Linked DNA regions of Homo sapiens: region 1 is linked to region 2. A link means that fine-mapping ties the variant in region 2 to the expression of a gene that starts in the linked region. Tissue or cell type: whole blood. Region 2 holds a variant in brackets; the other region holds the start of a gene. All regions are shown on one strand. Distances are from middle to middle.

What was found. PIP is the estimated chance that this variant, and not a neighbour inherited with it, causes the effect.
Region 1: MDFIC starts here. The variant in region 2 is fine-mapped to the expression of MDFIC in whole blood (TOPMed, PIP 0.98).

What each region holds. Positions count from the first base shown.
Region 1 is chr7:114,917,237-114,925,395 of GRCh38, reverse strand. It overlaps MDFIC (MyoD family inhibitor domain containing), which reads right to left and starts at 3,302. Exons shown (of 5, transcript NM_001166345.3): 1 at 2,760-3,302; 2 at 2,269-2,469. The coding sequence starts at 2,362. RefSeq lists silencers at 2,283-2,422, 2,653-2,832, 2,843-2,892, 3,223-3,362.
Region 2 is chr7:114,977,460-114,985,459 of GRCh38, reverse strand. It overlaps MDFIC (MyoD family inhibitor domain containing), which reads right to left. Exons shown (of 5, transcript NM_001166345.3): 4 at 5,679-5,954. Among named protein-coding and RNA genes, the nearest start is that of MDFIC, 59 kb to the right of the region's middle. The variant C/T (reference allele first, on the strand shown) is at 4,055.

The sequences.
Region 1 (8,159 bases), 60 kb after region 2:
CACTACAGGTTTTTAACAAAACACCTAAAAGGATGTAGAATTGAATTTTAGACTTGATGTGGAGTTCAGATTAGAGAATCCCCAAAATTACTTTCAACTGTAATGTTTCATGCCTTTGGTTAACAGTATGGATAGCTCATCACAATATAGTATAGTAATAAATGTAGAGCTTGTAATGTCATTATTTACCTATATATATATATTTAACTTTGCAGGGGTAGACTTGATCATATCCTTCATGTTCCTGAAATAATATTTTTTTCTGTTAATTTGTATTTAAAATTCCACTTTTCTTACTGACTTTAATATAAAGAATTTAAAAATTAGGTTTCTGTTAACTAAGCAGCCATATCCTACCGTAGAATTATTAAGCTATTCTTCAGAAAGGATGATAAAGAATCCAAGGACAGAAGCAAGAGGATAAAAGAACTTGAGAAAAGGCTTAAGAGTAGAGTGGCCTTCGAGCAAAGCTTCTTCACAAATGTCTTTATCAATAAAACCAACCTAACCAAGCTTCCCTTGAAGCTTTCCTCTAACCATTTGCTCCAAGAATTTCTTTCTTTAAATACACCTTATGACATCTGCCTGTTTAAGACATCATATTTTAACAAGATTCTGCAGACTCTCTTTTTAAAAATCAACTTTATATTTAAATTAAACTGATCCCTATTTAAAGAAAGTTTTGGATCAAAGTTAAACTAATAATAATAAAAATGTATAACTATGTTGCTAAAGCTAAGGCAATTTTCAGGTAAAATATAACCCAAGAGTTTCTACACTGATAACGTGTGTTGTACCCAACAAATGTACTTCAGGCCACTCTAGATTTTCGGGTTCTTAAGTTCAGATCACATGACACCATCCAGCATCCTAATGCACAGGTACATTAAGTACCACTGCACATTCTCCCAGATGATTTTAGAAATGCAAACTATTAAAGTTGGATATTGTAGATATTAGCTATTTCCAGGTCAAATTATTTTCCTTGGGTGTTTGATGTTGATTTTTGACATAAGCCTGGTTTAACAATTGTGATTAGCAGCTCAAGTGTGAGCATAAACAGCCCATCAATGAGTCGATATGACTACTAAGGGCATGCCTAATGACAGGAAAATGATTGTGCTGACAATACAAGGTGGAGAACACGGGCTGCTTCTCAGAAAACATATGTTTATCATTCTAGTTCTCTGATTTTCTGCAGTTAATCATTTTTATTTTCTGTTTAGAAAGCTGAGTCACTCATTTAGAGGCAAAAAATAATGATAAATGTAATTCAGTTTAACAGCCCTGGGTGCCAGAACATTTTAATTTAACCAAGATGTTTTCTGCTTTTACCTATTGCAGCTTGAAAGTTAACTCCTTCTCCAATTTTTGCTGCCTTAAAAAAAATCCCTAAGATTCACTACATTAGTACAAGTGGGAAATAAAGCTATCAGTTTATGCCTAAAATCAGGGGTATATGCTAGGTTTTTGAGCACTGGAAAAATTACTTAGTTCTGATATATCAGTGACAGAATTCTTTAGCTCAAAACCATCCTTAGAGTAAAATGCATTAGAAGTTTAAGAACCTTCCTCTCTGTCACCAATGGAAACCTAAAGTATATTGCCTTCAAGAGAAGAAAGGTTCAACTCGTTTAGAAGCTTGTTATGGAAGTTTCCCAGACACAAGAGTATTTTATAGGCTGTGTGTGTTTACACTTTGGAAGAACACAAAGAAGCTAATTCATTCTTGGAAAGTGTTTCTTATAAACCTTGTTTATTTATTTCAAAACAAACCAGTTATTGAAAACAAGCATAAGCCATTCCAAAGCTACTGGTCACAGAAACCTGAATTATCAACCGGGTGGTAGAGGAGCCAACAAGAAACAGAAAGATGAAATGGAGTAAGTGCACGCTTGTTCAGAGAGCTGCGGCAGTCCTGGATCTGCTGAAGAGACCTAGAGGAGAAGCGCTTCAGAACCTACACATTGAGTCTTAGGCCCAAACATGCATATGCTTAAGAAAGAAGCAATCCTGTCATCCTGTTTCTTCGCAACCAAAGGAAGGGGGAGTGGAGGGACCAACGGTTCCCGCCCTCTTACCCGGTTGTTGATCTAGGGCAAGGATCCTGAAGAACTTGCCTGAGTAACGCGAACTGTGCAAAAGTTCTCAACTACGAGTGGGAGCCCCTCCTCACAGCACTCCCCCCACCCCTATCTGTGCACTTGTGAGCAAACTGAAAAATGCAACAATGACAAAGAAGCTTGCCACTTGCAAGCGCGCACTCACCCTGGGCTGTGGAGCCCAGCTGGCCGCCGCCCGCCTCGGCCACGCGCTGCGGCCCCACGGGCCCGGGAGCGAGGGCTTCGCCCGCGCCGGACATGGGCCGCTCCGCCGAGCCCGCGCCGCGCCGCTGCCGCCTAGCTCGCCGCCCGGCAGGGCGCACGGAGGAAGGGCTGTGAGGTGCTGGGTGCAGGGAACTGACTGCTTCTGGCGGAAAAATATACAAAATTAAAAAAAAAAATGTTTTTAGAGAAGAGCACACCACCCCTGCGGGACGTTCCCTCCCCCTCCACTTCCCTCCCTCAAACTCCACCCCGGGGAAGTTTTGATTTGAAACTTGCGAAGAAAACTGTTACAGCGCAAGTTGACAGCGGCGGGGTCCCAGGGGTCCGAGGTGGACCCAGCGGGGAGGGGCTGGAAAGAGAGATCGGGTTTGGGAGAACCCCGGGGATGGGGATCAAACCCCTCCTCTTCCCCGCCCGGAGACCACTACCTACCTCCGCATCCCCCCGTAGTCGCTCCAAGCCCCTTCCTCCTCCTCCTCCTCCTCTTCCGCCCCGGAAAGTTAGCGAGCCTCCGGCAGCGGCCGCATTTTCGCCCCGGTGGCCTGACGACGGCGGCGGCCGCCCCTGCGCGTCCTCCCGCCTCCCTCCGGCTCAGCCCAGACGCCGCAGTGGCGGCAACTGCGGCAGCGGTGGCGGCTCTGACTCCGCGCACTCCGCCCCCTCTTTCCAGCCAGCTCACTCCAGCCGGCTCCCCTGCGAGGGGGCCTTCCCCCTCTCTGCCTCTCTTTCCCCTCTTCCACTCCTACAATCCTGAAACACTTCTCCCTCTGTTGCTCTTTTTCATCACATCCGGATCGGGAAGGCCTCGAACTCTTGGCTAGCGGCCCCGATGCTGGGAGCGGCGCGACCCGGGCTCGGCCGCGCGATCCCTCGCGCCCTGCGCTGTCTGGGTCAGGAGGCCAGAGCCGGCCTGGGCTGGCTCGGGCTCCCCACCCGGGCGCTGCGCCCTCCCGGGGCTGGGAAAGGGGAGTGAATGGGCAGGTCCCTGGCTGCCCAGACGTTCCCCCCACCCCGCCCAAAAAGTCACCTCATCCCTTCTCCCTACTCCTGCCCCCAGACCGACGGAGGCTTTGGGAATATCCTGACGAAAACCTTTAGGGTGGACAAGGAAAAACGAAAACACTGTTACAGTATCGAACTTTCCTGGTGGGATAGAGAACGTGTGCGTTTGAAACCTTGACCCCTCGGTTGAACGTTTACTCACTTCATCTCTGGCTCCTAAATTACTCTTTGGTCAAACAGTATTCCTGATGTAAAACCAGTTGCAGTTTGCGCGAATCTGCTGGAGGCATCCAGGCAAACAAGGTTGGCACCCTTGCGGATGCCGTGGTACTGGCCCCAGCCTGGCCTATGGCAAGCTAAATGCCTCACTGGATCAGTGGTATCTGAGGGGAGATAAACTTGTGGTCGGAAGTAAAAAGCTGATCAACTTTCCGTTTATAAATGAGACATTCTGATTGTAGCTTAATCTGATGAGCCGAGGATAGCAAGTGTAAAGTAATTTACAGATATATAGTACTTTAGTGGTATACTCAGATAACTTTTGCTCTTTTATTTCATTGTGAATGAAATGCAGAATTCATTTGTAGAAAGCTAGAACGAACTCATTCTTCGATTCTTTTGGACAAGCGAGGAATCACAGTAACGTTATCAAAACTGAAGAAAATGTGCATTGGATTCACTGTCTTTCTATGTGCATCATTAATAATATCCCAGAAATTTCATTTTTTCAAAAAGCTCATTGGAATTTATTCCAATTGATTACAAAGATTTACTTGTTACCTATGAAGAGACAGTGCATTCTAACTTGATTTCAATGATGGTAAAAAAGCCAGCCTTCGGCCGGGAGCGGTGGCTCACGCCTGTAATCCCAGCACTTTGGGAGGCCGAGGCAGGTGGATCACCTGAGGTCAAGAGTTCGAGACCAGCCTGGCCAACATGGTGAAACCCAATCTCTACTAAAAATACAAATATTAGCTGAGCATTGTGGCGGGCGCCAGTAATTCTAGCTACTGGGAGGCTGAAGCAGGAGAATCGCTTGAACACAGGAGGCAAAGGTTGCAGTGAGAAGAAATTGTGCCATTGCACTCCAGCCTGGGCGACAAGAGCAAGACTCCATTTAAAAAAAAAAAAAAAAAAAAAAAAACAGCCTTCAAAGTTGCTGATGACAGTCATTCAGACCATTCTCCCCAAAAAGACAAATGACATTTTGCCCCATTACACATAACTAACATTTTTTTTTCACTTGGAGATTTCAGAAATGGTATGAAATCAAGTGCATTACCTCTCTTGAAAACTTATCTAGGAGCCTGGACTGTTTGGAATTTGTCTGATGGAAGCAGATCAGTTCTGAAGATGACTTCATCACCACTAGAGAACAAACATTTAGGACGTCTCAGAGTTCACTGCAGCATCATCTGCACTCAAAGGAGTTGTTTACCTGCTCTGGAAAATTCTGTTTTATCCCTGTATCATTCCTTGCCCTATTTTTAAAATTCTCTCACAAAGATGTTAAAGTCCAATAATATAAAGAAGTTACAGCTTTCTTCTAGAAAGTCATAATCAATGATAAGTATTTGTTCATTTAATTTCACACAGTCCTTAATATTGCACACGTGGTGGGTGATTCCATAGATATTCCTTAAATTAAATTTTAAAATCTTTAATGGAGAAGACATAAAATTAAAATAACATTAGGAGCAAATGAGAAGCTGTAGGGTAGCATCACCAAGGTTGTCAAATACTGTACCTCATTCAGCTGTGTGACTTTGGACAGTTAGTCACCCACTCTATACCTTGGTTGCCTCATAATATGAGAATGAAATTCTTCATAGAGTTTCTTTTTGAGCACTAAGTAAGGTAGTTTTCCTATAAAATTTGGAAGACTCTCAAGGGAAAAGGTGTTCAAAAGTATCAACTATTATTACTATTATACACGGAAGCATCTTGATGGGTAAAGCTGAGCATGGCATAATGACTGTATCAAAAGGGTCATATCAAAATACCAGTTTGTCATGCCATGCACCTGACGCAAATGATCTCAATGAATTCTTCCATCGGCCCTATAAGTAAATTGCCAGGATTGTACCTTCAGGATTAGAACTCAGGTCTGTCTCTCTTCCAGGCTATCCTGCATCCCTAGGTAACTCAGGTCTTCCTTCTGGAGGACCTAGAAGTGGTCTTAATGCCATTAACCTGGTGTCTGATATGCCAGAAGTTAAGTGTGGGCTCCTGAGTGTCCCTCACGCCTCCCATTTCCCACATCCCTGGCTGCACTTGCTTGTTCTGATTGCTTCATTTGTTTACTGACAAGCACTCCAGTACGTTCATCTCTCATTCTTTCACTCAGTGTCACGAACTGAAAGTTTGTGTTTCCCCAAAATTCATATGCTAAAATCTTAGCCCCTAATGTCATGGTGTTAGTAAGTGGGGCCTTTGGGAGGTAGTTAGGTCATAAGAGTGGAGCCCTCATGAATGGAATTAATGTCCTTACAAAAAGACACAAGAGGCCAGGTGTGGTGGCTCACACTGAGGCAGGGAGATCTTTTGAGGCCAGCACTCTAGGACCAGCCTGGGCAACATAGAAAGACCCCATCTCTACAAAATTGTTTTTAAAAAATTAGCAGGGCATAGTGGCATACTCCTGTAGCCAGCCACTCTAGAGGCTGAAGCGGGAGGATCACTTAATCCCAAGAGTTGGAGGTTACTGTGAGCTATGTGGGCCACTGCACTCCAGCTTCGGCAACAGAGCAAGACCCTGTCTCTTAAAAAAAAAAAAAAAAAAAAAAAGACATACAAGTGTTTCCCAAGGCTCCACCTTTTAATACCATCACCTTGGTGATTAAGATTCAACATATGAATGTTGGGGGACTACAAACATTCAGACTATAGCAGGGGGAGACATATTTTCTAAATTACTGTTTATAAAAGCCACTCTGGTATTATGCGTAAAATTGTTTGGAGGACTGAGAGTGGATCTAGGGAGTCCAATTTGGAGGCCAGGGCTGATGGCTGGCAGAAGGAATGGAGCCAAGTAGATAGGGATAAAGGATGAGGAAGCTAGAGGAATCGAGAGCAACTACCAGCTTTCTGCATCCAGGTTGATGGTGGTGGTATGACCTACAGAGATGAAAACATTCAGGAGAGGCCAGTTTTGGGGAAAGCTGCTGAGCTAATCATGCAAATGATGCAGCATGTGTGAGACAGCTAATTGGAACTGTCCTGCATAGGCTGCTGGACATGGGACTGGATTATAAGCATATACATGGTACTTTGCTGACTAGCAGGTTATAAGAATGTCCAAGGCAAGTGTGCAGAGTAAAAGCAGAAGCCCTGAGACGCAGCTGTGCCTTGGAACTCAATCCACGTGTATCCTTACTGGCCTCTCTCCTTTTCTCCACATCCTTCCCAGTGACATAATACCATTATCAGCTTGGCTTGGAGAACCACTACTGTTTAAGTACTACTACTGTCAGTGTCCCACTTGCTACCCCAGATCCCCCTGGGTTGTCTTTATTAAGCTAGATTTTGCCATGTCTTAAGCTATCTTAATCTGCGTAGGTGGAAATTCTTTAGGGGTATCAGCCTGCCGGTGGAACTCAATGTCCTAGCCCCGGATCAAAGCCCCTTGCCTTTGAAATTCTTGTGTGCCTTACAACCATTCCTGCCTAGTGATGTGTACACTAATGATGATATAATAATATGTGAACACATTGTGAAAGAGGTCTGACATGAGCTAAGCAAATAAAATAAAGAACTAATTAAAAGAGTTTATAAAGCATCCTTATGGACTACTTAATCTTCATCATTCATTCATTAAACATTCATCAAACATTTATTGTGCATCTACTATATGCTAGGCCACATATTAGGCTCTGGAGATAAAGAAATTTGATTTGATGTCTTGAAAAGCAGCTAAATTAGTTTTCACTTGGGCAGAGGCTTATTTGCCTAGTAAAGTCAAAATTAATCCCCATACACAGATATCTAAACCAGAGGTCTACAACTGGGGTGTGTAATTGTAAGGGCATTCCAAGGGATGCATAAGACAATCTACTGAAATGTGGGCAGAAAATATCAGAGTGAGCATTTATATATGTTTTTATGTTATAATTTTTAATTTCTACTTTTGAGTATGTTTTTATACAGTGTATTGCACATTCTTACAAAAGTACTTGGGTATGATTTATAAGTAAACATACATTAAAGGTTCACATTCAAATACTTTGTTTCTTTGTTTAGAAAAAAAACTTTTTAAATGCTTTGAATCCTTTAAGGAGTCATTCCCAGATTATATCAAGGATAGTTTTTCTGGAAAATATATTTACCTAATTTATGTTAGAAGCAGCACTTTGGCAATCCCCAAACCCAATGACCTAGAAACCAGGAAATAACAGCAACATACTAAATACCTAAAATAACCTTCATGATGTTCAGAAACTGCCAACACAAAAGACATAATCCTTCTCAAATCCTACTTGTTCTTTTGTGAATACACACCTCTAATCAAACTTTATTTTCTACTGTTTCAGCTCACATTGTTTTAGAAGAAGAAAACTTAGGGCGCAGGAAGATTGAGGAGAAGGGATTAGCTAAGGGAGCTATTAGGTCAGAAAAACTGACAGCAGGAGAGATGACAGCTGACAGACAAGGAAGATACAGGAAAATAAACATGTTGTAACAACGCCTTTGTGAATTCAGCTTCGTGAAATAGTCAATGTTCCTAATGAGCCTGAGTCATTAAGGAAAGAGTCAGTTAGTTATGTGAGTGCTATATTCTGTTTTTAGGGGGTCGGGTCAATCTTTTTACATTCCAGGAAAAACTCTTTCAAA
Region 2 (8,000 bases):
AGAAAAACAAAATCCTTTGGCCTTGAATGCCTCCCTCTATTCTCAACTCCCTAAACTATCTTTGTCTTGTCTTTCAGGTCCCCATCCAGGCATTGACTTTTCCAAGAAGCTAACATTCCTGACCCCTCTATGAACCTTAATACTAATGATCATAACAGCAGCTAACACATATCGAACACTTCATCTGAGCCAGTCTGTATTCTAAGCACTAAGCAGTACCAATTCAAGTCTTCTTCATAACAATCCTATGAAGTAGGTACTAATAATATCACCATTTTAGAGATGAGACGCTGATGCAAAAAGAGGCTAAGTAACCTGCCCAAAGACACATCACTGGTGAGTAGCAAAGCCAATATTTGATCCCAACCAGGCTAGTTTCAGAGTCTGTGCTCTAATTACTATACCACACTGCTTCTATGTGATTAAAAATAAAAATGAGATGATTGTAGTTACTTCCATCTACATAACGCTCTTCACTGTCTTGTTCAGCATTTATGTTCAATGATATACTAGGACTGGATATGTATTTCTCTATGCATACTAAATGCAGAATATCAAGTATGGGGTGTAAATTAATGCAAAAATTCCTAAAAAGTATAAAATTTCTTTAAAAGCATTTTGTTAGAACTTAATTTTTACAAAAATATATAGATGTAACTGGCACATGTAAAACATACTAAGATTTACCATTCCTATAAGAAAAGTGTCTTTGAGTCTAATGAAAACCCTTGGCAATTTGAACATTATATGATACTAAATTATACTATAATTATTTCAAAGGTCAAGAATCTTAAACATTTAGTCTTAAAACTCTCCACCTGGGTGATGCAATCAGAAAATTAAAGTATGTATGAAAATATTTAATTATACAAAACAAGTAGAAATCTACAAATTTAATAACCTTTAAATAAAATGTGCAATTTTTTTGCCACATGGTTTTTTTTTCCTCCATTGCAAAAATGGAACTTTTTAAAAGAACATTTTTTTTGGTGAATATGAGCACACATTTTATTTTCCAGGGCTGGTTTCAAGGAAGGGTAGGATAAAATGATTTGGAATAGAGCATTGTATCACGTGTTAACTCATGAGAAACTTTTTTATGTTGGGCACCACTGTACAATAAAAAAAAAATTGACTTAGATTCAGTCCAGCCTTTTCAGGAATTCACAGTCTAGTAGGAAAAGGAAAACAGAGAGCACAGGTGTGAGAGTTGTTTTTAAAACTGTGGTAAGAAGGGCTTTAAGAGGCAAATGTATACTAAGAAGAAGATCCCTGCTTGGCCCACAGCTGTAACACCATTAACATCCTATATCATGTTGAAATGTCTGATAAATTACCTTTTTTTCAGAAAACTTTAGTCACACAAAATAGCACAGAGGTTAGGAACATGGATTGTGGAACCAGAATGTCTGAGTTTGAGTCTCAATTTTACCATGCACCTGTTGCCTTTGGTTGCTTCCTTTAACTTCTCTGTGTCTCGGTTTCCTCATTTATAATTAGATAATTTCATATAATTCATAGAATTGCAGCGTTGTTGGGAGGACTAAATGAGTTCATGTGAGAGAAGCAAGTAGCACATAGAAGGCACTCTAATTATATGAATCAACATCGCTTAAAAAGTACCTGATGGGGATGCCGAGGTGGGCGGATCACCTGAGGTCAGGAGTTCAAGACCAGCCTGGCCAACGTGGTGAAACCCCATCTCTACTAAAAATACAAAAAAAATTAGCCAGGCGTGGTGGTGGGCGCCTGTAATTCCAGCTACTCAGGAGGCTGAGGCAGGCGAATCGCTTGAATTCGGGTGGCAGAGGTTGCATTGAGCCGAGATCGCACCATCGCACTCCAGCCTGGGCAACAGAGTGAGACACGACCTCAAAAAAAAAAAAAAAAAAAAAAGTACCTGATGAAGTGCAGGCTTCTTTGTTCTCAGTTCTTCAGACACTCACAGTTAAAGACATGTTAAAACATCTTGCCAACCCACAGACTCAATTATGGCTGGTTCAAACCCTACCTCTGTATAAGCAATGGATCATGTCTTAGCAGTGTTTTTGCTATCCTGGTTAGAAAAGACGCCCTTAGAGTTCTTAATCAAACACTAGAAAATTTGTAAATATTTTATTCCATTATCTGAACCAAAAAAAATGTTATTCCAGTTGTTGATAAAATTTATATGTGGCACAAAAATCACAACCACAAGCACCATGTACCCAGACATACAACACATTGTCAAAGTGGGCATGATTAGCTGCTTTGAGAATTTTAGTTAAGATTATTTTGCTACTTGTTTGCTCATTTGCCTTTGGAAGAACAGGCATAGAAGATGATGATTTAACAAAAATGTGAAGCAGAACAGTCATAAAACTGAGAAAAGCCTTGTACTATGGTTTGAATGTCACCTCTACAAAACTCAGATGTTGAAATGTCATGGACAATGTGATGATATTAAGAGGTAAGTCCTTCAAGAGGTGATTTGGCCATGAGGGCTTCTCCCTAATTAATGAGATTAAGGCCATTACAAAAGAGGCTTCATGCAGTTTTTGATCTCTTGCGCTTCTGCTTTCCGCCATGTGAGAACACACGCTCCTCCCTTTCCAAGGATGCAGCAACAAGGCATCATCTTAGAAGCAGAAAATGGTCATCTCCAGACAACCTAACCTGCCAGCACCTTGATCTTGCTCTTCCCAGCCTCCAGAACTGAGAGAAAATAAACTTCTGATCTTTATCAAATACCCAGTCTCAGGTGTTTTATTTATTTATTTATTTTAGAGACAGGGTCTCACTCTGTCACCCAGGCTGGAATATAGTGGCACAATCATAGCTCACTGTAACCTCAAACTCCTGGGCTCAGATGGTCCTCCCACCTCAGCCTCCTGAGTAGTTAAGACTACAGGTGCATGCCACTGTGCCCAGGTAGATTTTTTTTTTTCTTTTTTGTAGAGATGAGATCTTGCTATGTAGCCCAGGCTGGTCTTGAACTCCTGGTCTCAAGCGATCCTCCCCAGTGGCCCTCTCAAACTGCTGGGATTATAGATATGAGCCAACCTGACCAAACTTTAGTCTCAGGTATTTTGTTATAGCAGCACAAATAGACTAAGACACCTAGCCACTAAATCTCCCCATTCTTATTGCTTTATAAAAAAATCATTTCCATCCATTTTTATTTGCACAATAAATCATGCTGCCTATTCAAGGCCTACTGTTCTGACATATGGGCCTCCTGAAATTCAGGTGCTATTTCTGTTCACCACAACTGTTTCTGCCCCTGCCCCATTCTGCACATCAGGTTTTAGGTGTTTCCTCAACAAGAGATCACATATTCTATAGAGCAAGAGATCTATCCTGAGAGTCAAGCAGGTGCTGTAAAAAGAGACTCACAGAATCTTGGAACCGAACTTAATTTTTAAAATTATCTAATCCAAACCCTTCATTCCACAGAAAAAGCAGGCCCATAGAAACTCAAGTACCCCAGCAAGCTGGTGGCAGAATTGAGAATGTTTTTCCTTTTAATTTGCCATCTACCAGTTCAACGGATTTTTTGTTTTGTTTTGGTTTTGGTTTTTATTACAGTACATTGCCAGAGAATAAACATAACTTCAAAACTGAAAGTCAGAAGAAACACAAAATTTTAGGGCACAACCTTAAATACTAACAAATCATGAAGATATCGAACTTTGAGAAAAATATGGACAATCAAATTTTAATCTAGATTCAAGCAATCACAATAAAACAAACCTACAATTGTCTAAATTCTATAGTCTTACAATGAAGATATGGATAAGACTTTGCAAAATGTGTTTATACATTTAAATTTGTATTTTATGCTCCTCATGTCTCCAACCCAATCTGGAACATATTTTGTGATAAAAGCAGATTACACAGATTACAAGGGACTTCCCTTATCCAGAGCTCTGTGGTAGGCCATAAGTGTGAATGTGAGCATGAGAGAAGAGAAAGAAAAAGTAAAAGAGGGAGGGAAGGGGGAGAATAAAGGAGAAGGGAGAGAAAGAGGAAGAGTAAAACTGTATCTCATTCATATACCGGTGATTTTCTTCCT[C/T]CTTCGTATGTTACTTATGAAGCTGCATTCCTACATTACAAATAAATTCAGACATGGTATTAAAGGCAAGCAATAATAAAAAAATTTATAAACATTCCATAAGCTATTTCAAGTTAGGACTGATATGCGAATGTTACCATTCTTTAATACAAAAATAAGTAAATATCAAATGGAAAATAAGAGGTTAGGGACGTAATAAGTGAATTCAAATGTATAAAACAAGTACATTTCAATTGCATTCAATTATTTCACCCGATCACCTAGAAGCGAAGATCCTCTAAAGAAAATTGCATTGCTTTCCCAACTCCTTGGAGAGCCAGTTTAGTTAACAGCCTACCTATGCTTCAGAGATGACCATGCAGCTTACATGTCAAACTCATTTTAAAGTGTCAATCAAGTCCCTTTCAATCTAATTAGTTTGGAAAGTAGTGTCACTGACCTGGAACTATGCAGACCATTTATTATCATATCATTTGATCAACCTAACACTTTATCTCAGTTGAGTTTGAGACACCTGTAGCCAAAATGCAATATCCTTTCTCCCACTCATTACTGGTAATTCTCAATACAATTTCCTATTTACAACTCAATTTGTCTCTATGAATAAGCATGACCAACTTCACAGAGGCATTCCACAAAATTTCTCTTACTTAAGATTTCATAGCAAAATAGAAAGGAAAGGGGAATAAGGAGAAATATATGTATATCAGATACATATAACAGATTCAAGACTTTAGACATCCAATAACTGCTAAAAGGGGAAAGGAGGAAAACCAGAGAACCATGGATACATGGAAAGAAATTTGGATCCTTAAATATGGGAGATTTTTATTTTTGAAATATAATACAATGAATCATGTAAAGGGAGTCTGTTTTAATTGTCACCATGTGCAATTTGATTAATAAAGAACTTTCTCAGGTTCATAGTATTTAACCTGCTTTTAACCCAGCCAAGGGCAGGATGAGATAGAACTGAAGAGGTAATAACTAGTTCTCCAGGGGACAGAGAACACAGCCAAGTGTCTCTAAAGGAGGAGGTGAAGACCAGACCACAGTGAGGCTGAAATGGGATGGGAGTGGAGATGGTTGCAGGTGCTGGCCAACGTGGCGGCTGGAAGATGCTGGTCAGTCAAGCAACAGAAATCACCTGGCCTATTCCCTGGCAAGAGCATGAAAATTACCTAATCTTTCTCTCATTTTAGCTTTGTCTATTTAAGAACCGATTTGCAAGACAAAAATACAAGCAGGTAATCTTATCTCTGAACTATAGAATAACATATTGCATCAGGGAGGGATAAAAATACACACACACACTCATGTATGCCATCAAAATGTTGTATTTATATTTTTAAATGTGGCATTAAAAAAAGAAGTATAGCAGTTATATTTAAAGTAATGACTATTCACTCTAGAAGACGATTATCTAAAAGCAGGATGTCAGCTGCCACTGCTTCCTTTTCTATCTTGTGCTTTCCTTTGGGAAAGTTAATCTGCATTTTACCAAAATTCCTGTTTGTCTGAAGGATAAGCAAGATTCTTCAATTATATATGCTTGATCAAATAATTACCAGGAAATATTATTTTACATCTGGTCAAATAAAATCTACATATATCTCAAACTTACCTTCAGGTGAAGAGCCTGTCTTTTGGGAAAAGACAGCATTTACTTTGCTCTTCTTACTGATATCGCTGTTTACAGACAAGCTGGACTGAATTTTTCTATGCATTTTTTGAGAAACAGGTGCTGAAAGTTTGCGATTATCTGCGGATCCGTGTTTGGCCCCGTGGTGAATTCCATTTCCATTGCTCAGACCTGTGTGGCCGTTCTTTATCTTGCCTATTTCCTCACCACTTGGCACCTGGGCTGAAGTCTGAAGCTGAGGCAAGCGCTGAGGTTGGGCTAAATTAAAAACAGGAAAAAGTCAGCCAGTTAAAGAAAAAGAAATTAATATTTTAAAATAATGAAAATACATTCAGTAACAGAGATTTGGGGTTTTACCCATAATACTAACACTGAAGAGGCAACAAAGAAAAGAAAGAAAAATACTAACATAGACATAGAGAAAGTATAATTTACTAAAATGGAAAATGGGAACGGGGTCATCAAAAGTGGGTTTGTACAAGGATATAAAAAGTAGACCATAGAAATACTGTTTTGGGCGGTTTTAAAGAAAATTTAAGTTAGAAATCTGAAAAGGTAATTTAAGACTCATTCAGAGAATGTTGATTATTTTCTATATGCTGAGCCCTCTTTGTGCATAGACACAACAGTGTTATCTCAATACTACTACTAATAACAAACTACTCAATTGTCTTTTCAAATAAAAGGAAAGAAATGATAAGTTCTGGTATTCAAAGCCAGACAATACAAAGAAAAATACAGTGTTTTTAAAAAAAATCCCATTGTGAATCCTGCAGAAGAAAATCTTTTCTATATTTATTCTTTAATTTGATTTTTAAATAAACAAGTTATGAAAAATTAGGAATACAAGATAATTTCTTTAATAAAACATATCTACCAAAATTAAATGTCAGGACTTTAGAAGTATGTCAAATGCCCACCCTTACGTGACTTATGCAATATTGTGCAGGAGATCATAGTACAAGCAATAAACAAGACAAAGAAATTTAATAGGTCTGACTTCTAGACAGGAATGAACAAAATTTTTGAGATGTGCACAGATTTGGATGTTCTGGGGAACATTCAAATATATAGTATATATATAATCTAAGTTTAAGACTATAAAAACTGAAAGTCTAAAAATGTAGCAAGATTGATACACAACCATATAAAATCAACAATGCTCCTGTAAGCAAAGAGTATAACCGATTAACAAATAAACAAGAAAAATAACTCTTCACAATAGCAAAAAAAGAAAGAACAAGCCAACAAACAAACAAAAGATGCTATACGTATTTTGGAATTAAACTAGAAAAAAATGGGCAGAGGTTTTATGGCAAAAATTACAAAACACTACTGAAAGTCATAGAAAAAACCCAAATAAGTGGAGAGAGTATAAATATGTTAATTATGTTAATTCTCTCCGATTTATTATTTAATGCCATTTCCATAACATTTCCAACAGGCTTGTTTATGGAACTTGACAAGCTGATCCAAAAATGTATATGGAAGAGTAATCAAGAAAGACCAAGGAAATTTTTAGAAGAAAAAGAGGGTTGTAGGATTTGATGTATGAGATATTTCTATCACAGCACCTAAAGCAGTACAGCATTGGACCAGGCATAGACATACAAGCCAATGAAGCTTATGAAATTATTGAGCCCCAAATATGGGACTCATATATTAATATAAGGTAGACATGCACACACCTACATATTTGGGTACAATATAAATAATATGCATAATTATTTTATTATACCAATTAATATAATAATATTAATATAAATATTAATGGTTATATCAATATAATCTAATATAATTATGTTGATTATGTAATTATTATATAATACATATATAATATTTATGTGATATATAAAATATATAAATAAAATATAATTAATTATATAAATGTTAATATTTATACAATTAATATTTGGGTATAGTATACTTAATATAATTAGTACATGTAAATTCCAAATGTATTAAATGCCTATATATAAAAAACAAAACTTTTTATTTAAAGTGTAAATAGAGGAGACTGTTTTAATAGCATAAGCACAAACAAATATGATTTTTTAGACAATGAATCATAAAACAAATGTGAATATTCACCTGTTGTGTTGTGTTGTCCAGCATTCTGGTCACACTCATGGAGTTAGGTAAATTCCTCTACGACATCCCTAGGCTACTCTGGAGCTAGAGGACAAGGATGTGACCTAAGTTCTGCCAGAAGAGAAGTATGGCTTGCATTTGGAAGTGATCAATGCAAGCTGTTAGCCACACCAGGGTGGTGGAGCCTCTCAACACAGGGAGTGAAGAGGTATT